Linked DNA regions of Homo sapiens: region 1 is linked to region 2. The links come from fine-mapping of genetic effects on gene expression. Tissue or cell type: monocytes. Region 2 holds a variant in brackets; the other region holds the start of a gene. All regions are shown on one strand. Distances are from middle to middle.

What was found. PIP is the estimated chance that this variant, and not a neighbour inherited with it, causes the effect.
Region 1: ISCU starts here. The variant in region 2 is fine-mapped to the expression of ISCU in monocytes (TOPMed, PIP above 0.99).

Annotation. Positions count from the first base shown.
Region 1 is chr12:108,558,483-108,566,580 of GRCh38, reverse strand. It overlaps ISCU (iron-sulfur cluster assembly enzyme), which reads right to left and starts at 3,985. Exons shown (of 5, transcript NM_213595.4): 1 at 3,845-3,985; 2 at 2,189-2,302; 3 at 1,150-1,260. The coding sequence starts at 3,958. It overlaps SART3 (spliceosome associated factor 3, U4/U6 recycling protein), which reads left to right and starts at 5,408. Exons shown (of 19, transcript NM_014706.4): 1 at 5,408-5,738. The coding sequence starts at 5,427. RefSeq lists enhancers at 65-114, 3,496-3,565, 4,096-4,175, 4,246-4,305, 5,160-5,259 and 1 more and silencers at 2,756-2,805, 3,766-3,885.
Region 2 is chr12:108,506,259-108,514,362 of GRCh38, reverse strand. No RefSeq gene overlaps it. Among named protein-coding and RNA genes, the nearest start is that of FICD, 5.0 kb to the left of the region's middle. RefSeq lists a silencer at 1,111-1,296. The variant A/G (reference allele first, on the strand shown) is at 4,050.

The DNA.
Region 1 (8,098 bases), 52 kb before region 2:
GTAGAACAGTGCCCCACTGCCTTACAGAAAACCAGATTTCCCAACAGCCAGACTCTTTGACTATGTCTATCATTCAGTTTCCCAATTCTGCTAACCCTTCTTGGTTGATTCAGGTTCTGCTCCTGAAACTCAGATGGGAGATCTCAAGGTTAAAGAAATGTCCTCTCTCCCATTTTCTGATCACAATTCACAGTCCCCTAAGGGCCAGGTTCTGGGAGCAAAAGTGCCTTGTCTCATTTCTCCCTTCACCTGAGGACAGTTCCTGACAAATCACTTCAGAGCTACCTCCTGCCACAGCAGGTTAGGTCTGAGCTTCCTGGCCCACAGGGGCTTGCCAGCCAGAAGGCCGTGAGCCACAGGAAGCAGGTGGCACGTGGCCTGGCAAACTGCTCTGCTGTGGAGCTGGCCAGCTTCCAAGCATGCTCCTCTGTGACTCAGCTCCCTGAACCTGGTCCCTTGGGGCAGCAAAGATGAGTGCCTTGCTGGTTGGCTTTTCTGAGAGGTTTTGACAGCAACTGGATTTTAGAAAGTCCAGCTCTTCACTGTGTTTGGGACCTTTGACCTCTGCAGCTACCAGGGAAAGACACTTGGGAGACAAAGGGATGAAAAAGAAGTTCTAGCTCTTTATTATCTCTGCCTTTAGAGGGCTTGCGATCAGCCACCTGGATCACTGTTCTGATTTCGTTGTTCACTTTGCCCCCACCCTTGCTGTCTTTTTGATTATTTAATCCCTCTTTTAACACAGGCTAGTTTATTTCACCAATTCTTGAAAGCCACCTAGAACCCTTCCTGAAACATGAGAGGAAATAAACAAGAAAATAACTACCTTATAACAACTCTCTGACTTGAGAAATTATAAGAGCACTGGTAACCTTAGAGAAAGCCAAAGATTTCTTTTAAATTCTATTTTGTTAGAGGGACAGGTGAGGATCTTTTTTATATGTAATTAACACCCAAACAAACAAAAAAATAAAAATGATCAACAAGAAAAAAACCCAAACAACACCTAGTAGAATGATCCATAATTCCCAATTTGAAGAAATGATAATATAATCAACATCTGCATAGGAGAAATTTTAAAAATTTAGAATATTAAAAAAAAGTCATGGTTACTTGTTTTTGACCCATTAGATTTGTGAGCCACCTTACCGTCTTTCCTTTCACCCATTCAGTGGCTAATGAGCTGGAGGCAATTGCGGAACCACAGCCAAATGTTTTAAACCTAGCATCCACAATCTTCCCCTTTTCATCCACTTGAATCTAGAAAAGAGACAAGAGTTAAGTGGTGAGTCCTGGGACCACCCTCTGGAACCTGGCACTCACGAAGGTTCACCAGGGCCTTCCCCAAGGGCTTTGGGCTTGCTTTCCACACTAAGTGATGGCATTAATTACTGACTTTGCCTTGTTTCAAAGAGCTCAGTGATGAAAAGTGAAATGCAGGGACAACTATCCAGGCCCAACTGACAAAGATCAGCTGAAAAATATGTCCCTCCACTCCAATATTCTTTTGTTTTGTGACTCTGGCCTGCATTTTGGCTATGAACTTCTATTTGTGGAAGTCTGCTCACAGCTGCTGGGGCAATCTGGCCTCTTTAAACACTGACAGAGTCCACAATAAAGGTCTCTGGTTAATACTTTTTTCTTGGGCAGCAGATTACACTTAGTGGTTTCCTCCTGTTTTGTTTCTGTATTCCAAGATAGGTATGAAGACCTCTGGCAAGCTGCCCACTCACCATGAAGCAGCAGATTGGTGCTACAACTACAGTTTACCCAAAGCACTAGACACTATTTTCATGTTTCCCCCAATCTGGGGACAGGTTTAATTTACTGTGTTTCTTGTTTCATTGGGGACTGCTAGCTCACTGGGATTTTCCTTTGATCAGTAAAATTCACAAAACTCTTTAGTTGGCTGAAGTCAGAATTTAAACTGATACAGTGAGTACAAAAATGAGATTACTTTTCTATTTTGGAAAAAGTTGGCATAGTACACTAGCCTAGCAGGAGAGCTACGATTGAGGCCCTGCTCCAGTCATATCTAACATGGACTCATCCCATCTCACAGGAATGGAGACCAAGTGAAATGCTTGGAGATCTCACAGGAATAAAGATGGAGACCAAGTGAAATGCGCAAGTGCTTTGTAAACTTAAAGGGATTATTGTTATCACTATTAAAAAAGACTAGCCATACCTGTAATTTCATTACGTCACCACATGCTGGAGCCCCCACCAGTCCAGTTCCAACATTTTTAGATGTCTTGTCAAGGGACCCCACGTTTCTAGGATTTTCATAATGATCAACAACCTAAAATGAGAGGGTTAAGATAAATCATGTTCACTCTCTATTGGTACTGGTCTCTGGTTTGATGGTAAGCTCCTCGGTCAGCATCTTGAACCTGGCAGGCAATCACTAAATACCAAATTTCACCTGAGTAGAAAGGTCTACACTCATGTCAATGAGAACCATTTGTGACCCCCAATTCCTTTTGTGTCTCCTCTACAATACTTCACAGATTTGAGATACCTAGAAGAAAAAAAAATCAGTGAAATCATGTCTTAGTTCCATAGGATTTTTACAAAAATACTTGACTTTCACCCACCTACATCACCAGACTTGGGCTCAAACAGCAGTTTTGTTATTTTCAAATAAAATCCATCCTCAAAGGATGATTACTATTTAAAAATTCTAAAAATAACCATGGCCCAGGGAGGGAAAGCTTTCTTAGAAGCCTTAAGGTGACTGTTACACAGGGAACAATGCTATGGAATGTGTACGTTTATGTGTCTTTTAAAATAAAAACAGTGCCATTACCGTATTTCACAGCCTGTCATCACCCTGGTGCAGCAGCGCACCCTGGCTGCTGAAAGGCTGCTAGTCCAAGTTTCTTCAGGGTGTACCCTCAACAAAACACACCCCCGGGAGGGGGAGGAGTGAAGAAGCCCTTGGAGAAAGGGCAGAAGCCAGATCACAATAAACATCCATTCGAACTGGCACACAGAAGGCCTTAATAACCTTGAGGTTTGGTTACTGGTTAGTAGTAAGCACGCCGATCTTCCAGTCCCCTTTTCCCCCCATCTGACTAAGGATTTTGACTCCAAGTAAAAGGGACCTCAGGATAGTATCTAATGTAGGGGCCTTTTGTGCCACGTTGATTTATGGCATTCTTTAGTTGTTTCTCGAGTGGGAGTCTCACGTCTGGGGGACTTTGTGCCACCAGACAGCAAGGGGCTGCAGACTATGAATCTATCCCTCCTTCCCCGCCAAAAAACCCCCCAAACAAAACAAAAACATTACGCATGTTGGTTACAAGCCTGACTCCCCTATGCACTCCTAAAGCAGTAACAGAAACGGTCTCCTCGTGCTGGGGCCTATGTGCCAGGAACCATGCCAGGACTCCACGCACAGTATCCTTTGTAAGGGACAGCTGAGAGCCCCCCATTTACACCTGGGGAAACAGGTTCAGAGAGGCGCAGTGACTAGCCCAAGGTCATCTGGCCAGGGCAGCGGAGTGGCTGAAGCCGGAGCCCGCTCCGGGGGTGTGTCTGTCCCTGGACTCAGAAAGACAAGTCCCAACAGGACCCTGCCTCCTGGGCTGTTGGCGAATTTAAAATTGGGACGCACGAAGTCGCGGCCAGCGGCGGGGCCCCCTGGAAGTCGCCGCCCGATGAGCGGTAACTGTTGTTTATCAGTTGCAGTGAGCCTCACTGCGCAGCAAGGGAAAGCGAGTCAGGGCAAAGACGTGGGAGGGGACAGCTCCCAGTCCTAGCTGCGCAGAACCCCGCGGCCGCCCCTCCAGCCCAGGCCTCCGCTGAGTCGGCATTCCGCGCGTCCCTCTTTTGTCCCTACCTTCTTGTGATAGAGTCGGGCCGGGGCCGACAGCTCCCGGGCGGGCAGGCGGGGGCTCCGCAGCAGCAGAGCCGATGCCGCCCGCCTCAGACGGAAAGCCCCAGCCGCCGCCATCTTGCCGGCTTGCGCCTGCGCCAGTCCAGAGCGACGCCGAGGGGCGGGGCGCGTCTGCGAGTCGGCTCCGAGCTGGGAGCGCGCCTCTCTGACGTCACCGAAGCTTTGCGCCTGCGCTTTACCGCTCCGTGCACGCGTCCGCCTTCTGGCCCCGCCTTGACCACGCCTCTCGGGGGCGGGCGGGGTCGGGAGCGGGAAGGTCTGAAGTCGCTGGAGGGCTTGTCCTGGGTGCTGGATTCTGGTTGAGACAGGACCTCAGGGCTTCTGCAGTGTGGGGCTCAAGTTCGCTTTCACAAATCCCGCTGCGGGAATGCGGCGCAGAGGAGCACCGAGTCCACTTTTCCTAACCCTATTTTGCAGCTAAGGAAGCCGAGATTCAGGGCAGTTTAGTAAGTCCGTCCAAGGTCGCTAAGGACTTATGTTCAATTAGAATTCGAACTTGGGTAATCCTGGGTTAGAATCCTGGTTCGGTTCCTTCCTGGCTGTGTGTCCCTAGACGAATGGTACCGGCTCGCTGAGTCTGAATCTTCCCTTTTGTATTAATTCGAGGACAATTGCTTCATCATGAAGCCAGCATCTGTGTCGAGTACCTACTATGTGTCAAGGCGCTCTACTAGACCCGGGGATCCAACGGAAAGCAAAACAGACATAATTCCTGCCCATTAAGCCTGCTAATGAGGGAGCAAGGTAGAGATAGAGACACACACCAATACTTTCCTACCTCAAAAATGGGAAGCTTAAGAAGGAAACGAATACCATGTCCTGATTGAAAAAAAATGAATATGTCTATTTTTCTCTCTAAAACAACAGCAAACTCAATTTATATGTCAGTGCCTAGCAATTAAGAATTTCTAAAGAAATGCGTATTAATGTAATTTACTGTTGGTTTGCAGTATGTGATCTTATAAAACCGGAAAACTCACGTGTATTTAACGTCTACTAGGTACCAGACGTTTACATAAAGGGGAGGAATCTGGGAAATGGATTTTTCTCTTGAATGGTGAAATCGATCCTTCCCCGAGGACCTGCAGTTTTCTTTGCGTTTGAGGCGCAGTTGCTGGGGAGAGTAAACCCAAGCGCCAGGTCACACTAGGCGATAAGTAAGGCATTTAATCGAAGAATCACTTTGACCTTCTCAAGATGGCGCCAAATTCTTCACTACAGACATCACTCTCGCTCCATGACTTCCTCTATGGCTTCCACTTCCTGCCCAAAGACCCAACTTCTGTCCGAAGTTGTGACGGAACGCATGCCATTATAATGAGTTTTTATATCTGGTGGGAGCTTTTACAGGGTATAAAATAATGTGAATTTAGTGTATGTGGAGATTTTCCTGTTATCTAAGTTCCCAGTTTCTCTTTCAATGGCAAGAAAACGGGTTTTTGATAAGGCGCGCGCCGCGGGCAGCTTCTGCCTCAGCGGGTCTTCGGCGGCCGCGGGAAGACCCGAGAGTCATTAGAAGCGCAAGATGGCGACTGCGGCCGAAACCTCGGCTTCAGAACCCGAGGCTGAGTCCAAGGCTGGGCCCAAGGCTGACGGAGAGGAGGATGAGGTTAAGGCGGCTAGGACAAGGAGGAAGGTGTTATCGCGGGCTGTGGCCGCTGCGACATACAAGACCATGGGGCCAGCGTGGGATCAGCAGGAGGAAGGCGTGAGCGAGAGCGATGGGGATGAGTACGCCATGGCTTCCTCCGCGGAGAGCTCCCCCGGGGAGTACGAGTGGGAATATGACGAAGAGGAGGAGAAAAACCAGCTGGAGATTGAGAGACTGGAGGAGCAGGTGGGCCCGGGGGTGGGCAGCGGGCATCTTCCAGTCTTTCAGGTCCTCGGGTCCCCATGTCCTGGCCCGCCTCCCTAGTCCTCGGCGGCGATAAAGCCGCCAAGGCTGCAAACCCGCTTTTCGTGACAGTAGCTCCTGTCGGATTTGAGTGCTTACTGCCTGCCCATTGCCTTGCAAACGTTATCTCATTGAATCCTCGCCACGACCCTGTGAAGGAAGCCCTGTTATCTATCCCCATTTTACTGGAGGAAACTGAGGCTCGTGGAGGAAAGTTTCTTGCTCAAGATAACACTTCCTGCAAGTCAGGCCTTGTACTTTGATCCCATTCCAGAACTCCCACTCTTAACCACACGTCCAACAGTAGAAATAAACTCATTCGCAAGAGAGTGTTATTTTGTTATGTAGGAATGACGGCGATGATGAAACTTGTGGTAAGAAAAATATTGACCGCGATGGTGATAATAGAAATGGAAAGGTTTCTGGTTCTGGAGGTTAAGGCCTCAGTTCTAGCTGTTCAACTCTTGTATGTGCTTGTAAGAATTTCTTAATTTCTCTCACCCTCTCGACTTCCTTATCTGCAGATTGGGAGCAACAATTTCTGCATAATATAATTGTTGTAACAGTAACTATAGCTCAGTGCCTAGCATCTAGTCATAACATGGTCTCTCACTTGTAACCTTATGAGGTGGTGATATCTACTGTATAATCCAGGATCTCAGCAGGAAATAGGTGGCACATTTAAATTAGGATGATCTGAGAGAAACTCAATAAAGGTGTGGGTAGGGAAATCGGGAGTGAAGGTTTAGTATCCCATAGCTGGTAACTCCAGAACCTGGTGTCCATCTTTGGGCCGGAAGGGGTGAAGGGTGTGATCTGAATTGTGTGGAGAGGGCACCTGAGACCTGCTGATAACTTTGTTCAAGGGAAGCAGCCCCAGTTTCCTGTCAAGGATTGAGGTGGGGGAAGAAATACCCTGACCTCTCTTTCTTCCTCCCACCAAACTTCTGCTGGTGCCTCCTGCTGGGCAGACCCATCTGGAAGCTGGAGAGCCAGGAAACCTGTGCATGAGGTCTATACTCGGGGACACAGGGCAGGGAGGAGAGGGTAGGGTGTTTTTTGGAGGGGGCAAACAGAAGAGATGGAGCACATTCTCTCTTTTTTTTTTTTTTTTTTTTTTTGAGACAGAGTCTCGCCCTGTCACCCAGACTGGAGTGCAATGGCACCATCTCGTGTCACTGCAACCTCTGCCGCCCTGGTTCAAGCGATTCTCCTGCCTCAGCCTCCCCAGTAGCTGGGATCCAGGCACGCACCATTGCGCCCGGCTGATTTCTGTATTTTTAGTAGAGACGGGGTTTCACCATGTTGGTCAGGCTGCTCTTGAATTCCTGACCTCAGGTGATCCACCCACCTTGGCCTCCCGTAGTGCTGAGATTACAGGTGTGAGCCGCTACGCCCGGCCCGCATTCTCTTTTTACAGATGAAGAAACAGAGGTTCAGAACAAATGATGAAATGATTTCCTTTAAGTTATTCATAGTGGGATTTACACTTAAAATGTGGACTAGATGCCACACTGGATGTGAAATCACTCAGTGAATGTGAAGTTGCTAATCTAGTTTACTCATTAAACCTTACTGAGTGTCAGTTTCCTTATAATACTCTCTCTGGCACTGATATTTTTGTTATGAGATAGTGATGTCATCCATTGGTATAGCTTGTCCCACCCATTACATCTGATTGTCAGAGGAACCTGTTGGGGTTGGCAGGTGGTTAGCATTTCTACTTTTTTTTTTTTTTTTTTTTTTCTTTTTTGAGACGGAGTCTTGCTCTGTGGCCCAGGCTGGAGTGCAGTGGCACGATCTCGGCTCACTGCAAGCTCCGCCTCCCGGGTTCATGCCATTCTCCTGCCTCAGCCCCCCGAGTAGCTGGGACTACAGGCGCCCGCCACCAAGTCCGGCTAATTTTTACTATTTTTAGTAGAGATGGGGTTTCACCGTTTTAGCCAGGATGGTCTCGATCTCCTGACCTCGTGATCCGCCCGCCTCGGCCTCCCAAAGTGCTGGGATTACAGGCGTGAGCCACCGCGCCTGCCCTCTACTTTTTATAAATAAGTGTGCTGAAGCTAATTTAGTCTTACTCATTCAGCAAACACAGCGTGACACTGGGTACCAGATTGACTGTGTCCCTGCCCTTGTTGATGTCATTTCTTCAGACTGCTAGTCCTGGGCCTTTCGATGAGCCTATTCTGTGAGGTGGGGAAAGAGAGGTTTGGGACCAGAGAGGTTAAGTCCTTGGTGAGGGTACACAGCTTGCTAAAGAGCAAGAAAGGGGAGAGCAGAGGTCTCTGGCCACTAGTACTCTG
Region 2 (8,104 bases):
CGCCTAATTTGTGTATTTTTAGTAGAGATGGGGTTTCACCACGTTGGCCAGGCTGGTCTCGAACTCCTGACCTCAGAAGATTCGCCTGCCTCGGCCTCCCAAAGTGCTGGGATTACAGGCGTGAGCCATCGCGCCCGACCTATTTCTGATTTTTTATTTTCTTTAGAGACCGGGTCTCACTATGTCGCCCGGGCTGGTCTCGAACTCTTGACCTTAAGCTCTCCCTCCATCTCGGCTTCCCAAAGCGCTAAGATTACAGGCGCAAGCCACCCCCTCGGTTCTCCCTGACTTTTTAATTTGTATCCTCTCCAGAAGGACCTGGCTAGTTCTTTTGGCTTCCCAGAGAGAAATTTTTTCCTTGAAGCAGAGAATGGAAACCTCCATCTTAATCCACAAATACTGAAATTAAACATCTAGGGAGGTGCCCCAGAAACGCTAAGCATTTAGAAGTTAGCAGTTCAGATTCTGGGGAGTCAAAGAGACCTGAGCTCAAATTCAGACTTTGCCATTTACTCTCCGTGTCACCTTGGGCACGTTACTCCTAGCCTCACTTTCCCCACTTGTAAAATGGGGACAAACAGCCTACCTTGCTTTTGGCATCCAGTTCAGGATTTGCAGAAGGCTTGATGCTTCAAGATCTGACCTCCTCTGTGACGTGTATTGCTCTTGGAGGCAGGGCTAGGTGGTGGTTGTGGGGTGTCACTGTTGGGAGTCACACAGACCTGGGTTCAAATCCCAGTTCTGCCCCTTGCAAACTGAATCACATTCAGCAAGTGACTTGATCTTGTTGATCATCTGTCTAGGCTTTTCTGTAAACTGTGCACAGTGTGATGATATTACCACTTCACAAGGTTTTATGTGAGGGTGAAATGAGATTCTATACATCTGGCACAGAGCAAACTATCTATCTATCTATCTATCTATCTATCTATCTATCTATCTATCACCTATCTATCTTTTTTGAAATAGGATCTCACTCTGTTGCCCAGGCTGGAGTGCAGTGGCATGATCTTGGCTCACTGCAACCTCCATGTCCTGGGTTTAAGTGATCCTCCCATCTCAGCTTCCCTAGTAGCTGGGACTACAGGCACACACAGGCTAATTGTTTTTTTGTTTGTTTGTTTGTTTTTGAGACAGAGTCTTGCTCTGTCACCCAGGCTGGAGTGCAGTGGTGTGATCTTGGCTCACTGCAATCTCTACCTTCTGGGTTCAAGCGATTCTCCTGCGTCAGCCTCCTGAGTAGCTGGGATTACAGGCATGTGCCACTGCACCCGGCTAATTTTTTTGTATTTTTAATAGACACGGGGTTTCATTCTGTTGGCCAGGCTGGTCTTCAACTCCTGACCTCAAGTGGTCCACCTGCCTTGGCCTCCCAAAGTGCTGGGATTACAGGCTTGAGCCACCGCGCCTGGCCAGAAGATCCATAGTTTTTAAGGAACAAAATCAGGGTGGTGATTATTTTGGTGGCTTCTCGTTTTTAATCTTTTCAACCAAGGTCATAAACATTTTTCTCTTGGAGTCCTCTGAATTGCACTTCCTGATGGCCCAAGTAGTAATGTCATTGTAAAAACCTTCCCCAGAGGAGGGCCTGGTAGGCAGCCAGCTTATGGGTGACAGTATGTTAGAAAACAGTGAAGCTCTGGGGTCAGACAGATGTGCGTTGAAATGCAAGGCCCACCGCTTGCTGGCTGGGTGACCTTGAACAAGTCACTTATCCTCACTGAGCTGGGTATTAAGGGACTAGTGGACCCCTGTCCACACCCAGGTATAAAGCAATGTAGTCCTCTGCTTCTAAAGGCACCCTCCTCTCTTTGTTAAGTCTTTAATTAGCTTAGGCTACGAGTAGTAAATCCAGAGGCTATGCAGGAACTGCTAATGAGCAAAGCTTCCTGGCCATGAGACAATAGGTAGAGGTGGGGAGTATGGCAGATTTGAGAGCACATGCCTTGTCTAAAGTGGGCAGCAGCTTCTCAGCTCGAACCCGTATTTATTAGCTGGGATGCAGTCTAAAAGTGGATAGAGTTTTCAATTTTTCAAAATAAATGTGAGGCCTAGATTTTTTAAGCAGTATCTCCAGATTTTAAGGCAGTTGGCATGGCTGCCGGCTGGCTTTCCAGGGCCGCCAGATTGTAACCCCTTTGTAGCCGGTAGTGGAAGATGGCAGGGGAACGCAGGAAGAAAAGACTCAAAGGACTATTACAGCAAAATGAGCCCATTACTGTGTCTGGCCACCAGGGGGCAGTAATTCACCTGACATCACTTCCCTCCTTCAATCTCCTTGTCAGGAGTTTACACTCAAAAAATTTTAACTCTCGACTTTGTCTGCATTCAGCTGTGTTGAATGCACAAAATATGGTCCCTGAAGCGATATTGAAAAGTTGGCTTTCTCCATCTTAAGCATTCTGTACTAGGTGAAAATTGCCTCCCCGTGGCCCACGGAGGAGTTTTCTAAACGCTTACCTTGACACATGACAAAGAACCCAGAAAGTGGCTGCATGGGAAATATGTCCATTATGCAAAACAAAACAAGACAAAAAACCCTTCTGCATGTTTAAGGAACAGCAGTCAAGCGCTTCTTGCTGGCAGAGTCGGATTCTATTGCTTAGGAAAAACAAAACTCCCCGGCTTGAGGCTACATGGCATTGAGTTGGCTGCAGAATGACTCAACTTCATTAAAAAGAAAATACACCACACCTGTTCTTGCTTCTTCATTTCTCTCATCTTTCCCCACCCCTGATTTTTTTTTCTCTGTCTAACTTAATGCTGTGGCTGAAAAAGAGAGCCCAGCAGCCCTTCTCCCTGCTACTGATTAATCCTCCTTTTAAAACATACCTGGTGGGGGCCAGGCGCGGTGGCTCACACCTGTAATCCCAGCACTTTGGGAGGCCGAGGCGGGCAGATCACGACGTCAGGCGATCGAGATCATCCAGGCTAACACAGTGAAACCCCGTCTCTACTAAAAATACAAAAAATTAGCCTGGCGTGGTGATGGGCGCCTGTAGTCCGAGCTACTCGGGAGGCTGAGGCAGGAGAATGGCGTGAACCCGGGAGGCGGAGCTTGCAGTGAGCTGAGATCGCACCACTGCACTCCAGCCTGGGCAACAGAGCGAGACTCCGTCTCAAAAAAAAAAAAAAAAAAGAAAAGACATACCTGGTGGGGTCAGACCCAGTTTCTGAGGCATCCCCAAGAAACAGGGCTTGGGGGACCCCATGTGAGTGTCCCTGGGCTAAAGGCTTGTGTTCTGGCCTCAGGATGTTTCTCATGTCGTATGGTCTCAAATCACCAATATTTCAAAACTCAGACATGCAGATGAGTGTTGTTTTCAAAGCAAATCATTTGGGGAAGTGGTACTTCTTACTTGGAAAAAATTAAACGTAACTGCTTTTCACCTGTTGAACAACTATTTTATTTCTTAAAAACAACATGAGATCATTACAGATATAGAATCCACAAAAAACAAGAAAAAAATACACATTCACAATTCTACTCCATATTTCTCTATGCACATTTATTTATTTTTGAGACAGGGTCTCACTCTGTCACCCAGGCTGGAGGGCAGTGGCACGATCTCGGCTCGCTGCAGCCTCAACCTCCTGGGCTTAAATGATCCTCCTGCCTCAGCCTCCCAAGTAGCTGGGACTATAGGTGTGTGCCACCACGACTGGCTAATTAAAAAAATTTTTTTTTTGTAGACACAGGGTCTCACTCTGTCACCCAGGCTGGAGTGCAGTGGCATGATCTCAGCTCACTACAGCCTCAACCTCCTGGGCTTAAGTGATCCTCCTGCCTCAGCCTCCCAAGTAGCTGGGACTACAGGTGCATGCCACCATGACTGGCTAATTTAAACAATTTTTTTTTTTTGTAGAGATGGGGTTTCACTATGTTGCCCAGTCTGGTCTTCAACCCCTGGGCTCAAGAAATCCTCCCACCTCAGCCTCCCAAAGTGCTGGGATTATAAGCATGAGCCGCCACAACTGGCCACATCTATTTTTAAATGATGAAATATTTCTGATATCCAAAAGACATCAACAGTGCAATGGGCGCTTGT[A/G]TACCTGCCATCCAGTTTAAGAAATACCATGTCACCAATACACTGAAGCCCCATGGGCCTTCTCCCCTTCACATGCCCTTCCCTCCCTCCCAGAGGTCACTACCATGTTGAATTTGGTGCTGCTGCCTCCATGCATGGCTTTTTGCTTTTATCCACATGCATGTATCCATAAATAATATATAATGATGTTATGCAGATTTTTATGCATGATATATACCGTGTGGATCCTTCTGCATTTTGGGGCTCAGAATTATGTCTTAGAGATTTATGCTCATGCTGATATGCATAGTTCTGGTTCATTAATTTTACAGTGCTGTATAGTATTCCATTAACAATTTATTTCCCATTTACCTGTTGATGGGCATTTGGATTGTTTCCAATTTTTCCCTATCACAGACTGCAGTGAAATACTTGTATGATTTTTTGGCACATGTGTGGAAGTTTCTCTAGGACAAAGTTTCTCAAAGAATCATTTGGGGGGGTTTTGGAAAAACAACCACATGGGGCCTTGCTCCAGACCAACGAAATCCTCTAACTGCTCCTCTGATCCTACTGTATCTTAGCTACAAGTGGAAATAATCGTACCCACCATGCTATCTCATTTTTGGTAGTGGTGACAACTGAGCACTTACTGTGTGCTAAGTAATTTGTATGGTATTTGATTGAATTTTTGTAACAACGCCATGAACTAGATATTATTAAACCCACTTTATAGAAGGTGAAAATGAGGCTCAGATAAATTAAGTAATTAGTCTGAGGTCACACAGCAAGCAAGTGGCAGAGCCAGGGTTCACAACCAGTCTTCCTGACTCAAAACTGTGGTTTTGACGATTATGAGACCCTAGGCTTTCAGAGATCTCAGGTTACATTTTAGCTCCTCAGCTTTGGAGGTGGAAAAACTAAGGACAGAGCCAGAATACAAATCCAAGTCTCTAGATTCCCTACCCGTTAACATGTCCCCTTCTACTGTAAAAATGCTTTAAGGGTAGGGGAAGGAGCGAGGAGGAAAAATCTTCATAAAGTCATCTTCTCGAGACAATTTCTGACATCCACCCTATGTCTGTTATCCATTGCTGTGTAACAAATAACCCCAATGCTTAGTAGCTTAAAACAACAGCAAACATTTTTTACTTTACATTATATTGTGTGGGTCAGTAATCTGGGAGCAGTTTAGCTGGATGGTTCTAGCTGGCAGACGTTCTTGAGATTGAAGTCAAGATAGTGTTTGGGGCTGCAATCATCTGAAAGCTTGACTGGTGCTGAAGGCTCCATTTCCAAGGTGGCTCACATGGCTGGTGGCTGGGGGCTTCAGTTCCTCTCATGTGGGCTGCCCCGTAGGACTGCTTGAGTGTCCTCTCAACATGGCAGCTGGCTTCTCCAGCATGAATGACCCAAGAGTGTGGTGTCTTTTATGATCTAGCTTCAGAAGGCACAATTTAACCTTCGCTGTACTCTATTGGCCACAACACAGATCAATCTTGGTTCAAGGTATGAGGGGGCTACATAAGGCTCACCAGGAGATGAGGATCAGTGGGGCCCATCTTTGAGGCTGCCTGTCTTATGCACTGCCTCTTCCCTTCTCTGTCCCAGTGATTGATTCTGCCTGACAGGATGGACTTCAGGCCTCCTGGGCCTTATGTGGTGGACTCTTTGGGTACCTCAAGGCAGGGAGCTTCTGCATTTGTGAGACTCCTCTGTGAGAACAGTGGACTCCCAGTGGCTGACTGCTTTTCTCCCAGCTGTTTACTGACTGCTTTCTAGCTGTACTACTCTAATTGGCCCAAGAAGCTGCCTACTCCTGCCTAAAAATATGGTCATGTTGACATGGAGACTGACTCAGGTGCTCAATACGCTGTTTTAGATCACAGCCTCTGAAAGATGTGACTAACACTTCTCTTCCTGCATGGGGACGGTGACTCAGTTTGGGCCAGGATGGAGTGAAGACCCAGTGGAGCCTACATCCTCCCCTTCTCTGATTTCTCTGTTTCACCTGATTCAAGGTAGCCAGGGTCTGGGGGCTGCTGGGCAGAGGGGCTGTGGACTCCCTGAGTCCAAATTGCAGTCCATTTTGATGCCCCCCAAAAAGCTCTCAGTGGAAGCTCTCTGTTGCCATAGTAACGTGGAGATGTGGAAATTAACATGGATGTCTGGCTAGCTAGGAAAGCCAAGCTCTTAATACTCATTCCCTCTTTTAAATAGATAAGAATTCCCAGGAGGGCTTTGGACAGACATCAAAGGGCCTATTTCAGGTGTTGAGAAAATACTCTTTTAAAAATTACTGTGAAATGAATTCAGCCCTAATCAGAGAGATGGCAGTGATTTGGCATTCTCAGAGGAATTGGAGAAGTAAGTTTAGAGCCAAGGCAACTGTTTTTTTTTTTCCTAAATGACAGCTTTATTGAGATATAATTCACATACCACACAATTCTCCCATTTGAAGTGTACCATTCTGTGGTTTTTAATATATTCACAGGGTTGTGCAACCATCACCCCAATTTTAGAACATTTTCATTACCCCCAAAGAAAGCAAAGACCCTTTAGTAGCAATTTCCTGTTTCTCCCCAAGCTCCTTCCCTCAGCCCCTGGCAATCTACTCTCTGTCTGTATAGATTTTTCTCTTCTGGATGTTTCCTGTAAATGGAATCCTATAATATGGTGGCTTTTGGGGTCTGGCTTCTTTCAGCATTTTTATTTCTTGCCCTCTTATGGTTCTTCACAGTTTTTCCAACAGCAGTGTTTCCATGCACTTTGAGAACAATTCATTGGCTGGGGGTGCAGCTGCAAAATTAACCCCCAGCCTGGGGATGGATGAAAGGGAGCAGAGTCCTCCAAGGCCACCCACCTGGCCTTCCTTGTTCCTTCTTGAGCCTTCCTGGCTGCTTTGGGACTGTGGTGGGTAAAGTGGCCCTTTGGGAGCATGGCTGGCTGGGCTTCACACTGGCATACAGTGGACATGCTTCCTGTGACTTCCTTTCTTGGGAGAGTTATAATCACAAGCAGCAGAAGATCACCAGGTGCCAGGCACCATGCTACGAGCATCCCTTGAGTTAGGATAATTTCACTGTTACAGACCTTTTTTCCCCTCTCTTTTTATGGGGATTCACTAAACAGCCACCTCTTTTACTTCATGCAGATGTTTTGCTGAGGCTATCACTTGCGTCATTTTTCTATTTTTCAGCCATAAATGATGCACATAGAAATAATCTCACTCTTCGCCCTCTGCTAGCCTAGATATTTTACTTGTTTGTTTATTTATTTATTTATTTATTTATTTATTTATTTTGAGATGGGGTCTCACTCTGTCTCCTAGGCTGGAGTGCAGTGCTGCAATCTCGGCTCCCTGCAACCTCCGCCTCCTGGGCTCACACGATTCTCCTGCCTCTGCATCCCGAGTAGCTGGGACTACAGGCATGTGCCACCATGCCCAGCTAACTTTTTGTATTTTTGTTAGAGACAGGGTTTCACCATGTTGTCCAGGCTGGACTCAAACTCCTGGCCTGAAGCGATCCTCCTGCCTCAGCCTCCCAAAGCTTTGGGATTACAGGCATGAGCCACTGCCCCTGGCCTATTTTTTAAAATATAAAGTGGCTCTGCAGCCCCTTTGTTCTTAATAAGCTCCACAGGGGCAGGGATTTGTCTTTTGTTTACAGCTTGCCTAAGGCTGGCAGGCCACAGGAGTATTATCAACATTGATTGAACAAATACATGATTTTGTTGAATCCTTTGATGCCCCACAAAGTAGGTAGAGTTATGAGACCCATTTTACAGATGAGGAAACCGAAGCCCAGAGATGTGAAATGACTTGTCACAGGCCATCAGCCTATAAGTGGTGGAGCTGGGATTTGGTCTGATTAAGGGGGATCTGGAGCTCTTAAGCACTCTATTATGTGCAAATATGTGTTATGGGTTGAACTGTGCCTCTCAAAATATGTTGAAGTCCTAACCCCAAGATCCGTGAGTGAGACTTTATTGGGAAACAGAGTCTTTGCAGATAATCAAGTTTTTGTTTTTAAAAACTGATGCATAATAGATGTGCATAGTTTCAGGGTACATGT